2 separate regions of the Homo sapiens genome follow, and region 2 is linked to region 1. The links come from fine-mapping of genetic effects on gene expression. A gene starts in region 1. The other region holds a variant in brackets. All regions are shown on one strand. Distances are from middle to middle.

Region 1 (5,375 bases):
CACAGTATTTTGGCCTTTGAGTGGCTTACAATGTAGTTAGAGGAACAAGAGCACTGCCCAAAAATAAAAGCACTGTAAACATTAAATTACAATATAAAAGAAACCACAGGACAGTGTATAAATATATTTGAGTGGACACTAAAGATTACAGGAAGTTTTTAAAAAAGGTATTACTGAATCGCTTGAACCCAGGAGGTGGAGGGCGCGGTGAGCCGAGATCATGCCATTGCATTCCAGCCTGGGCAACAAGAGTGAAACTCCGTCTCAAAAAAATAAATAAATAATAATTTAAAAAAGGTATTACTCTGGAACTTAGTAGTAGTAAATATTCACAAAAGATGTTGGAATTGAAGGATGGATATTTCCTAATTTGGTAGAGGAAGGCAATTTCAGGTATGGAGAGAGGCCTGAACAAAGGTGGAATGCCTTTGAGGGCAGGCAAATCTGGCTGGTGCAGACCATTATGGAGGTTTGAGCGGACAAGTAATTGGAAATAATGTTGGAAAAGTGGGTTGGGACTAGTATGGTACTTAATGGTTTGAATTTTGTCCTGAGACAAAATTTAATACTAAATATAGTATTAAAGCAAGAGAGTGATAATGGAAAATGTTGGTTTTCTAAAAGCTTAATACAGAGAAGTATTTAGGTAGATGAAGGAAAGAAGAGAATGGAAGCAAAACATAACATTTTGAGTTTGAAGTTAGGGTGCACTCAGTAGGAAATGCTTAATAGGAAGCTAGAGGTACCCGTATGTACCTGGAGTGTGGAAAGGTTAAAAAAGACACTAAAGAGATCTAGTTTTGGTAGACATCTGCGTGATGATTACAGCTGAAACCATAATAGGTGGATTCTTTAAATAATATAAGGGTATAAAAGCAGCCAGGCTAAGGAATGGCCTGTATCCAGCATCTAGGGATGTCTTCCCCTCACCCCAAGATGGTGCCCTTCTGATTCAGGCAGCAACGGGCATGCAGCATTAGCTCTCGTGTCGTTTTACAATAAAAGGCCACTTTTGACAAATTTTGCACGCTCCCTGGACATTGGGTGCATATCTGCAGAAGAGAAAGAAACATTAGAACTCCAGAAAGAAAAGCCAAGAAAAGAACAAACGGCGATCAAGAATTAACTGCCAGTACACGTTTCCAGAATTCCTCTAACACGGGGCCGATAAATGGATAAACGGCTCGTGTCCCACCCTTGTAACAGGCTAGGCTAGGAGATGCCATCTCTTCCTCCAGAGTCCTGCGCCGAATCAGCTCCCGACACTTTCAGTACCAGATATCGCACAGGGAAGGTCCTCATCTCTGAAGATCACTATTCGAACTTATTTATTATGCTTTCTGCAGAGACTTCTCAATCTGACAGCCCTAGTTTGGCGCGGTGTAAAACGACCGCAGGTACGTAAAGAACTCATCAAGCATTACAAAAGTACAGCCCTACCACCGCACGATATATGGCGTTCGTGCGTAGAGAGATTACACAAGAGGCAGAGGACCCGTCTGTAGAAAGAACTTAAAGTTATTCTAAAATTAAGGGGCGAAATCAAGTTTCACAGGTCTTTGAAAGTCGGCAGGACTGGGGCGCCGAAGGCCTGCACGACGTGAGTACTTGGGAACAGGACCTGGCTGGGCAGGGTCGGGAAGCGTCAGGGACGAAATCAGAACCGCAGGCCCGCCGAGGAGAAGGGGGAGCCGCTGGCGAGCGCGACGCACGGCTGGCCAGCGACCCTGCTTCAGCCCGACCTCAAACTTGCTTCTGTACCTCGGGTAGCGCCAGAGCCCTTTCCACGCCCAGAGCGAGGAGCAGGGCGGCAGCCCAGGGCACCAGGGTCGTAAGACTACCCGGGTCGTGAGGCGCCATTTTCCGTTCCCTTGGTGCTCCGCTGCTCGCGCGACCCGGCCCCGCGGCCCCGCCCCGCAGCGCGTCAGGCCCTCTTCCCCGGGCGTGGCCTAAGCGGCCCGGTCCAGTCGCCCTGGGGCTGCTTGGGGGCTTTTCCTGCTCGTGGAGCTCTGCGCTGGTCTTCATGCGCCCTAGCCCTCTTTCGGGGATACTGGCCGACCCCCTCTTCCTTTTCCCCTTTAGTGAAGGCCTCCCCCGTCGCCGCGCGGCTTCCCGGAGCCGACTGCAGACTCCCTCAGCCCGGTGTTCCCCGCGTCCGGACGCCGAGGTCGCGGCTTCGCAGAAACTCGGGCCCCTCCATCCGCCCTCAGTAAACATGGCGGCACGGCGAGCGGGGCGGGCAGGGGGCGGGCAGGGGGCGGGGCCCCCGCGGGCTCCCGGCCAGGGCTCTCGGCCGGGCTCTGGCTACCCACGTGTGGAGACCGGGCAGGTGGGCCTGGAGAGCGTGAGCCGGTGCCGAGAGGCACCGGGGAGCGGCGTCTGAGCCGGGGCGGGGACAAGGGGGCGGGGAGGGGCGGAGCGAGCCGGCCTCCGGCGTGGGTCTGAGATCTTAAGTGCGAGCGGTAAGGTGGTGGTCTCCGCCGCGTAGAGGGAAGCGGGAAACCGAGAAAGAACGAGGGTGAGGGTGATGAGGGAAGGGCAAACCTCAAACTCCAGCGGGAGGACACGAGCCTGGATCGCCCCGGGCACCTAGTCCTCTTCACCTCAATGCTGATAGCGCATAGCGTCCCGGAGCCTGGCGAGGAGGTAGGAGCGGGATAGACGCTTCCCTAACTCATTTTCTTTGCCTTCCCAGGAAAAGGGAGCGATGTTGATCTCAGGAAGCACAAAGGGACCTTCCTAGCTCTGACTGAACCACGGAGGTAAGGGAGTGCGTTGCTGCCCCAGGGTGGGCCAGCGCCCTGACTGAAGGGCGCCAGGGGATCCCTGCTCCCGGCGCGACAGTGTTGGTTAGGGCCAGCCAGAAAGCTCCTTAAAGCCGACCCAAGTGATCATCTCGAGTAGCCGAGCCAGGCTTCCCTTCCACATTACCCCCATGGTGTCTGCCTGGAAGTTCCTGAAAGGTTTACGTTTAGCTGGCTGGCAAATTTTCTAAGGTGTTAGTAGCTATTAGCATTTTAAGGAGGGCCCCCAAAGCCTTTCACACCTTGAGGAATTATAGGCCCCAGGACAGATTTTGAGGGAATCTTTTTGGAACAGTTAGTCCTGCAGTGGTCTCATTGCCTTTTGTAGGAGTCAATGCGATCCACTGCAGTGTGTGACCAAAGTGAGTTCAGGTTTTTATTTTTATTTTTATTTTTATTTTGAGACGGAGTCTCGCTCTGTCGCCCAGGCTGGAGTGCAGTGGCGCGATCTCGGCTCACTGCAAGCTCCGCCTCGCGGGTTCACGCCATTCTCCTGCCTCAACCTCCCGAGTAGCTGGGACTACAGGCGCCTGCCACCACGCCTGGCTAATTTTTTGTATTTTTTAGTAGAGACGGGGTTTCACCGTGTTAGCCAGGATGGTCTCGATCTCCTGACCTCGTGATCTGCCCGCCTCGGCCTCCCAAAGTGCTGGGATTACAGGCAGTGATGTGGGACCCCTTTTAAAAACCTGAACTTGGCCTGGCGCGGTGGCCAGGCCACCGATCCGCCAAGGCAGGTGGATCGTCATGTCAGGAGTTTTGAGACCAGCCTGGCCAATATGGTGAAATCTCGTCTCTACTAAAAATACAAAAAAAAAAAAAAAAAATTAGCTGGGCGCGGTAGCACATGCCTGTAGTCCCAGCTACTCAGGAGGCTGAGGCAGAAGAATCACTTGAACCCAGGAGGTGGAGGTTGCAGTGAGCCGAGATCGTGTCACTGCACTCCAGCCTGGGCGACAGAGCGAGACTCCGTCTCCAAAAAAAAAGGGGGGGGGGTCCCACAATCTGCTGTTTGTGCCTTGGCATGTTATAGTTGTAGTGAAACAACAGCTAGCTCTTGCTTTTGGCCGCCCTCTTTCTGGAGAGATGCGAGACCATAGCGTTTGGATCAATGTAGGGTGTTTAGAAAACTACAGATCTGTTCTCAGAATCTGGTCTGTTGCTAGGTCAGGTTTTTCCTGTCTTCCCTGGGGCTCTCTCAGGCCATCCAGGGGAATTCTCCATACATCATGCAAATAGAATTTTATCAGGAAGTCCCATCAGCAGAGTGTCTTTATTTCTGTACCTCCGTGTCCCATACTGGGACTTTCCTTCCTGTCTCTGGCCACCTACCTCTCTAAACCACTAACCCTATAGTTAGTTCTTTGTTCTGTGTTCTTTGCACACAGGAGACCTCTTCTTTCCTCTTACTCCCCAGTAGTTCCCATCATCTCTATCATAGCAGTAAAAACTTGCCAAAGACGAATGAGAAAACTCAGGGTGTTGCAATGTGCAAAGGCCCAGGGCATGTTTAGGTTAAACCAGAGTTTAAGCCTGTTGGGAATCTTGTAGAACATGTGATCCAAGAGTTGCCAGGTCTGATTTTCCCTCTTTATTGGCCCCAAGAGGTTCAGAGTTCAGGTTTAGTCTGCATGAGGCCATATCTTGCCAGCCAGCCAGTGTCTGCCCAAGAACACACTGTGGGAGAGCGGAAAGGCAGCCTAATCTTTCTCCTAGTGGGCAAAAGCAGAAGACATAGTTTATGTTAGTCTGTCTCTTGATTAGTTGAAATCTAAACTATGTCCTGTGAATGACTGACTGCAACACTCTGCTCCTGTCCTGGTTCTGGGAATAGTGAGGACAGGGCCCTTGCTGAACACCTGTCATAGCTGCAGACAGCACTGTTTCTCTCTCTCTTGTTTTGTATCATGCTGCATAACCTTGAGCAAGTTATTTAATCTCTCAGTTTTCTTGTGTTAACTGGAGAGTATTCGTGTCTTAATCTGAGACATGCTGTTTTGAAAATGTTAGCTTCATTATGTATTATTACTAATGTTTATAAAGCACCTCACACACTGCTGGGTTACATAGCAGGTGTTCAGCAAATGTTAACTGTCGTCATGTTAGGCTGTGTAACTACATGGCATTCTCTGGTGTTTTTTCCTCATACCAATAAGTACCCCAGAGGATTGCCTTTGAAGACAATATGATACGCTTGGAGAACAGACAGGGTGGATGGTGAATCCCTAGACCTGGGTTCTAATTTATGCTCTGACAATAGTCGGCTCTGTGCTTTTGGAAAGGTCACTTGAACCATCTGAGCCTTAGCGTGTTTATCTGTGAAATCGTCAGTGGTGGGGGGTTGGTTGTAATAGTGGTGTCCAAAGATTTAAGATTTTAAATATTATGATCCCTTCCCTCTTTCTCTGAGGATTGTGGTGTATTCTTGGGGGATTAACATTTCTTGTGCAGGAGTTAGAAAATCAACTTTCAACTTTCCCATGTTTTCAGTTCCTTCTTTCCAACTCCCTCCCGCACAGAGTGCCAAGAGTACTTTAGGCTGAAAGGCTAATCCATCTAGGAATGCTGTTG
Region 2 (5,375 bases), 40 kb after region 1:
TGCAAAGGAGCAATTACAACAATGAACATAGAATCTGGGATGAATAAAGAGGAAGTAAGGACACGAGGGAAGATGGTTAGTAAGACAGAAGGAAGCAAATGAATTAAAGGTCTCAAGAAGACTGAAGAAATACTGGACTGCAGGCATGAGACTGAGATGGAAGGATAAGACATAGGGATCACAATATCCAATCAGAATGCTTAAAATAGAGATTCTGAGAATGGTGTATTATTGGTTTTGACAAGGTTAAGGGCATGACCATAGAAATGGGTGGCTGAAGAGAGAAAATAGAAAATTGCATTTGAGGAGGTCAGAATCTAAGATGCCAAGATGTTGGATAAATCATCCATTTGAGTGTTGAAACCAAAAAAATGATGACAAGAATAGGATAGAGAGAAAGACAGTCAGATGATAAAATCTTCAATGAAAGACAGGGAATGACTCAGAATTTAGTAGAAGTTGCCACCAACAAAGGATATTGGGGGACAAACCAGAGGGTACAAACTCTAAAGCCCCTGGTGTTTTTGAAATAGAAGGGAGAAGAAATCATTGAAAAGCAGCAATGAGGAGTCGGATGGACACTTACTTCCACGCCCACAAAATCCTGGGTTTGACTCTCCTTGGCATAAATGGGGTCGTGTCTAAATCGAGATCTGGGGTGCAGTTCGTCCCTCTCAAACCACACGGACTTAGCTGGGAGAGGACATTGAGATATTATTGCTAGAAGGGGAGGAAAATCTTATAGTGTGTTAATTTCTTGTACAGTTTTGTGTTGATGCTAAAAAACATTTCCGTTACTTCTTTTGGTTCGGTCTCATTAAAAACCACTTGTTTGAGTTGTTCGGTTTAGTTTTCCTTCTGCAGATTATTGAGTCATTTAAATGGATTGTAGTTTTCTCTAACTTACTAACGATGGGATATTCCCATTCAGAACAGGCAGCCAGGGTCTCTTGGACCAGGGTGAAACACCAGGAATTGGAAGATGAATGTTTCATCCTGGTGGGACGCAGCTAAAAAGCTGCCCCGTCATGACCCTCCACTGTCTGGGGAAGGGGTCTCCCTGAGTGGATGCACTGGGGAGCTCATGAATCAGTCAGAGCAGTCCCTCCTCTTGTCTGTGTGGCAGCATGGGGGACCCTCCCAAGATACAGCGAGTGGTGGGGCAGCCCCTTGGAGTTCCCTCTCAGGGGACTCCACGGAGGCCTGCCAGGTGAGTTCCCTCAGGGAACCTGAGGCTTGCAGCCTTTGTCCCAGACTTCCAGGAGAGGAAAAGTTGTCTCCACTGTGATCCTTGCGTTCATGCTCAGGGGCATAAAAAAGAAAGTGGCATATGGATCTTGAGAGAAGGCGTGGCCTGAGGCACCGCTAGAATGTTCACTCTGGCTGTTCCATGGCTCCTGTGAGGATGTCAGGAAAGGTAGGGGATGAAGAGTACATGCAGGCCAGCATCTTCCCATCCCTGCACATCTGACTGGTGTTTTTTTGTTTTTTTTTTGAGTTGGAGTTTCACTCTTTCACCCAGGCTGGAGTGTAGTGGCGTGATCTTGGCTCACTGCAACTTCTGCCTTCCAGTTTCAAGTGATTCTCCTGCCTCAGCTTCCCGAATAGCTGGGGCTACAGGCACGTGCCACCACGCTTGGCTAATTTTTGTATTTTTAGTAGAGACGACATTTCACCATGTTGGCCAGGCTGGTCTCGAATGCCTGATCTTGTGATCTGCCCGCCGATCTGCCCGCCTCGGCCTCCCAAAGTGCTGGGATTACAGGCGTGAGCCACTGTGCTCAGCCCTGACTGGTCTTTAATGGAGCCTACAGACAAGCTGCACGTGGTGCCCTGCAGACCACACCTACCCCTCAGCCATACCCCAGCACCCACGGGAGACTCAATTCCCCTTTCAGATCTAACAGGTATTGGAAAGAGGAAGCATTGTGCAGTGGCACTTCAGAAAAATCCATGTAGGTCCTTAAAAGAAGCAAGAAAGGGAGCTGATAACACTAGTTTTTCCTGAGGGAGATATGATAGCCAGGCTACACAACCAGGATCCCAGGAGTTATCTGGTCCAGATCTGGAAGTGACATGATGTACCGCTGTCGCAGGTATAACATGAATGCCTGCTGAATACATTTGACAATGCAAAGATAAGACATCAAGCCAGGAGATCTTCTGGATAATAGAGACTACTCTGCCCCAAGATAGGCACAGCCAAGCCCCAGCCTGGATAGTATTCATGAGGGCCTTAATGGAAATGAATGGGTCCCACTTAAAAAAATAAATCAGAAAACAAGCTCACTGAATACAACTGGGGTGACAAAAACATGCATCTGAGTGGAGACAGAGGAAATTTCTATCCATTTCTGCCCAATCTAGTGCCTCTGGGCAGAACCAAAAGCCTGGCAAAATCTAGAATTTATACACTACGAAAATCTTAAGAAAATATTCTGGCTCTAAGAATAAATAAAAATAGATTTTAAAATAAGCAGTTTGTGTTCTTCTGCTTTATTTAGACATAGATTTAAATGGTAGGAATCATGTACTTAACCCGGTTAGGAAAATTATATATCACGAGGCGTTTTTTTTGGGTGGGGAGGATGGACTGGGTTTATGATAATTCATAATGTTTGCTACCCACCTGCCAGGGGAAGGACACTGAAAGATCATGGCCCATCAAGGCCTTAGGTCATGCTGCTCTGCTTGCAAATTGCACAACTTTCCTGTTAATTTGCGGGGCAACTTTTGCACACATGTTTACAATCTGGTTAAAGAATCAGCCCTTGCAATGATGTCATTAAACGCACACAGACACAATGGTGCCATAGTAACAACAAGGTGCCTCTGAGCCAGGTGCATTGGCTCACGCCTGTAGTCCCAACACGTTGGGAGACCGAGGAGGGAGGATCCCTTGAGCCTAGGAGTTCGAGACCAGCCTAAGCAATATAGTGAGATTCCGTCTCTACAAAAAAATTAAAAAATAAAAAATCAACTGGGCATGGTGGTGCCCCTGTAGTTCCAGCTACTCAGGAGACTAACGTGGGAGGATCACTTGAGCCTGGGAGGTTAAGTCTGCAGTGAGCTGTGATTGTGCCTTGGGGGCAACAGAGCAACACCTCGTCTCAAAAAAAAAAAAAAAAAAAA[AG/G]TGCCTCTGGAGCTGGAAATTTTCAAGTTCAGTTGCTCCAGCAACTGGGGAGGGTCATGAAGACTATAGGAAAGACACTACTGTTCCCATGCACATTCACAGGAGAGAAAAAAAAGTCCAGCAAGTACCATGTTCATAAAGATTGGCCTGACCCTAGCTGTCCCATGGCAAACAGTCACACCCAAGACTCTCAGCTTTCTTTGGCTCTGATTTGTTTCTGTAACCATGCCAAGATGCCAAGGACAATCAACCAAGCAAGGCTGTGAGGATCTGCAAACTATTGCAGCCCTCAGATTCCCTACTTAAAAGGGAAATAACTGGGCATGGTGGCACGCACCTGTAGTACCAGCTACTTGGGAGGCTGAGGTGGGAGGATCCCTTGAGTTTAGGAGTTTGAGGCTGCAGTGAGCTGATTGTGCCACTACACTCCAGCCTGGGTGACAGAGCGAGACCCCCCTCTCAAAATAAAAATAAAAATAAGAAAAGGGAAGTAATACTGTATGTAGTCCAGAAACAGGTCAGACGCCAAAAGAATCTTATCTGGGCTGTTGTATGAGTCAGGGTCCAATTAGGAACATAAAAACCACACCAGTTATTATAACAGAGGGAATTTAACGGTAAGGACTGCAAAGGCAAAAGACAAATTCCAAGGAACAGAGAGGTGGCAACTGAAGGACGTAGAGCGGTGGAGTTAATGAAAGAAAAAGGTGGGAGTTACTGGAACCTAGAAGCTTGGAGGAGCCCTGCCGAGGTGGAACTCAGGCTTCAGAACACAGAGTGCTGTATAACTGGTGCTGGCATCTTTGAAGGGGCAGGCTAAAGGCTTGTACTTTTTTTTTTTTTTTAATTGAGACGGAGTTTCGCTCTGTTGCCCAGGTTGGAGTGCTTTGGTACAATCTTGGCTCACTGCGACCTCTGCCTCCCAGGTTCAAGCGATTCTCCTGCCTCAGTTTCCTGAGTAGCTGGGATGACAGGCACGTGTCACCACGTCCTGCTTATTTTTGTATTTTTAGTAGAGACAGGGTTTCGTTGTGGTCTCCAGGCTGGTCTCCAACTCCTGACCTCAAGTGATCCACCCGCCTCAGCCTCCCAAAGTGCCGGGATTACAGGCGCTAGCCACCGCGCCCAGCCAAGGGTGGTTCTGAGAATGGGGAAAAAGTTGGAAACTTAAACCAAGTGGGGCTGCCGGGTTAAAGAGCTGTTGCCACCTTGATAGGGGGGCGCAAGAAGTAAACTGCAAGAAGCAAATCCCCGCTCCCTCCTCCCGTCTTGCGGGCTTCCTCTAGCACCCTCTATTGGTGGAGCCCAGCGAAGTGCCAGCTGGCAAAGCAGAAAGTGGTTTGCAGAACCTCAGCCCCAGCGCCATAGGAAACAAAAGCAGGGTTCCAGCTTGGGGCTATTACAAATAACGCTGTTATGAGCGCTCTCATGCATATCTTTTTTTTTTTTTTTTTTTTTTGAGACGGAGTCTCACTCTGTCGCCCAGGTTGGAGTGCAGTGGCGCAATCTCAGCTCACTGCAACCTCTGCCTCCCAGGCTCAAGCGATTCTCCTGCCTCAACCTCCTGAGTAGCTGGGACTACAGGCGTGCACCACCACGCCCGGCTTATTTTTTTGTATTTTTAGTAGAGACGGGGTTTCTCCATGTTGGCCAGGCTGATCTAGAACTCCTGACCTCAGGTGATCCGCCCGCCTAGGCCTCCCAAAATGCTGGGATTACAGGCGTGAGCCAAAGCGCCCGGCCTTAGGTGTGTTTATACCCTGGATTTAACAGATACAGATATTAACCATTCTGGTGGGTGTGTTGTAGTATCTCAAGATTTCAATTTGCATTTTTCTAATAACTAATGAAGTTGAGCATGTTCAGCCATTTGGATATCCTCTTTAGAAAGTGCCTGACCAAGGCCAGATGAGGTGGCTCCCGCCTGTAATCCCTGCACTTTGGGAGACTGAGGCAGGAGGATCCCTTGAGCCCAGGAGGTCGAGGTTGCAGTGACCTATGATGGTGCCACTGCACTCCAACCTGAGTGACGCAGAGAGACTCTGTCTCTTTAAAAAAACAAAAACAAAAACAAAAAAACTGTGTTTCTAACCCATTTAGCCATTTACTACTGAATTATCAGTCTCTGTCTTATTGCTCTGTGGGGATTTTTAATACATTCTTGATAGAAGCCCTTTTAAATATGTGAGTTATATGGCAAATAGTATCTTCTCCCAGTCTGTGAACTTGTCTTTTTCACTCT

Direction of the effects. Alleles are on the strand shown, and positions count from the first base shown. SD is a standard deviation of normalised expression in the study named.
For the expression in prefrontal cortex of the gene that starts at base 2,188 in region 1, AG is the low allele of the variant in region 2 and G is the other (small effect, 0.22 SD a copy in BrainSeq).

What was found.
Region 2: its variant is fine-mapped to the expression of ATRAID in prefrontal cortex (BrainSeq, PIP 0.95).

What each region holds. Positions count from the first base shown.
Region 1 is chr2:27,208,854-27,214,228 of GRCh38, reverse strand. ATRAID (all-trans retinoic acid induced differentiation factor) reads right to left here and starts at 2,188. Exons shown (of 7, transcript NM_001170795.4): 1 at 1,762-2,188; 2 at 931-1,052. The coding sequence starts at 1,860. It overlaps SLC5A6 (solute carrier family 5 member 6), which reads left to right and starts at 1,961. Exons shown (of 17, transcript NM_021095.4): 1 at 1,961-2,209; 2 at 2,696-2,762. RefSeq lists silencers at 1,765-2,014, 2,205-2,524 and enhancers at 3,307-4,104, 4,059-4,118.
Region 2 is chr2:27,169,080-27,174,454 of GRCh38, reverse strand. No RefSeq gene overlaps it. Among named protein-coding and RNA genes, the nearest start is that of TCF23, 23 kb to the right of the region's middle. RefSeq lists an enhancer at 2,640-2,934 and a silencer at 4,390-4,439. The variant AG/G (reference allele first, on the strand shown) is at 3,133.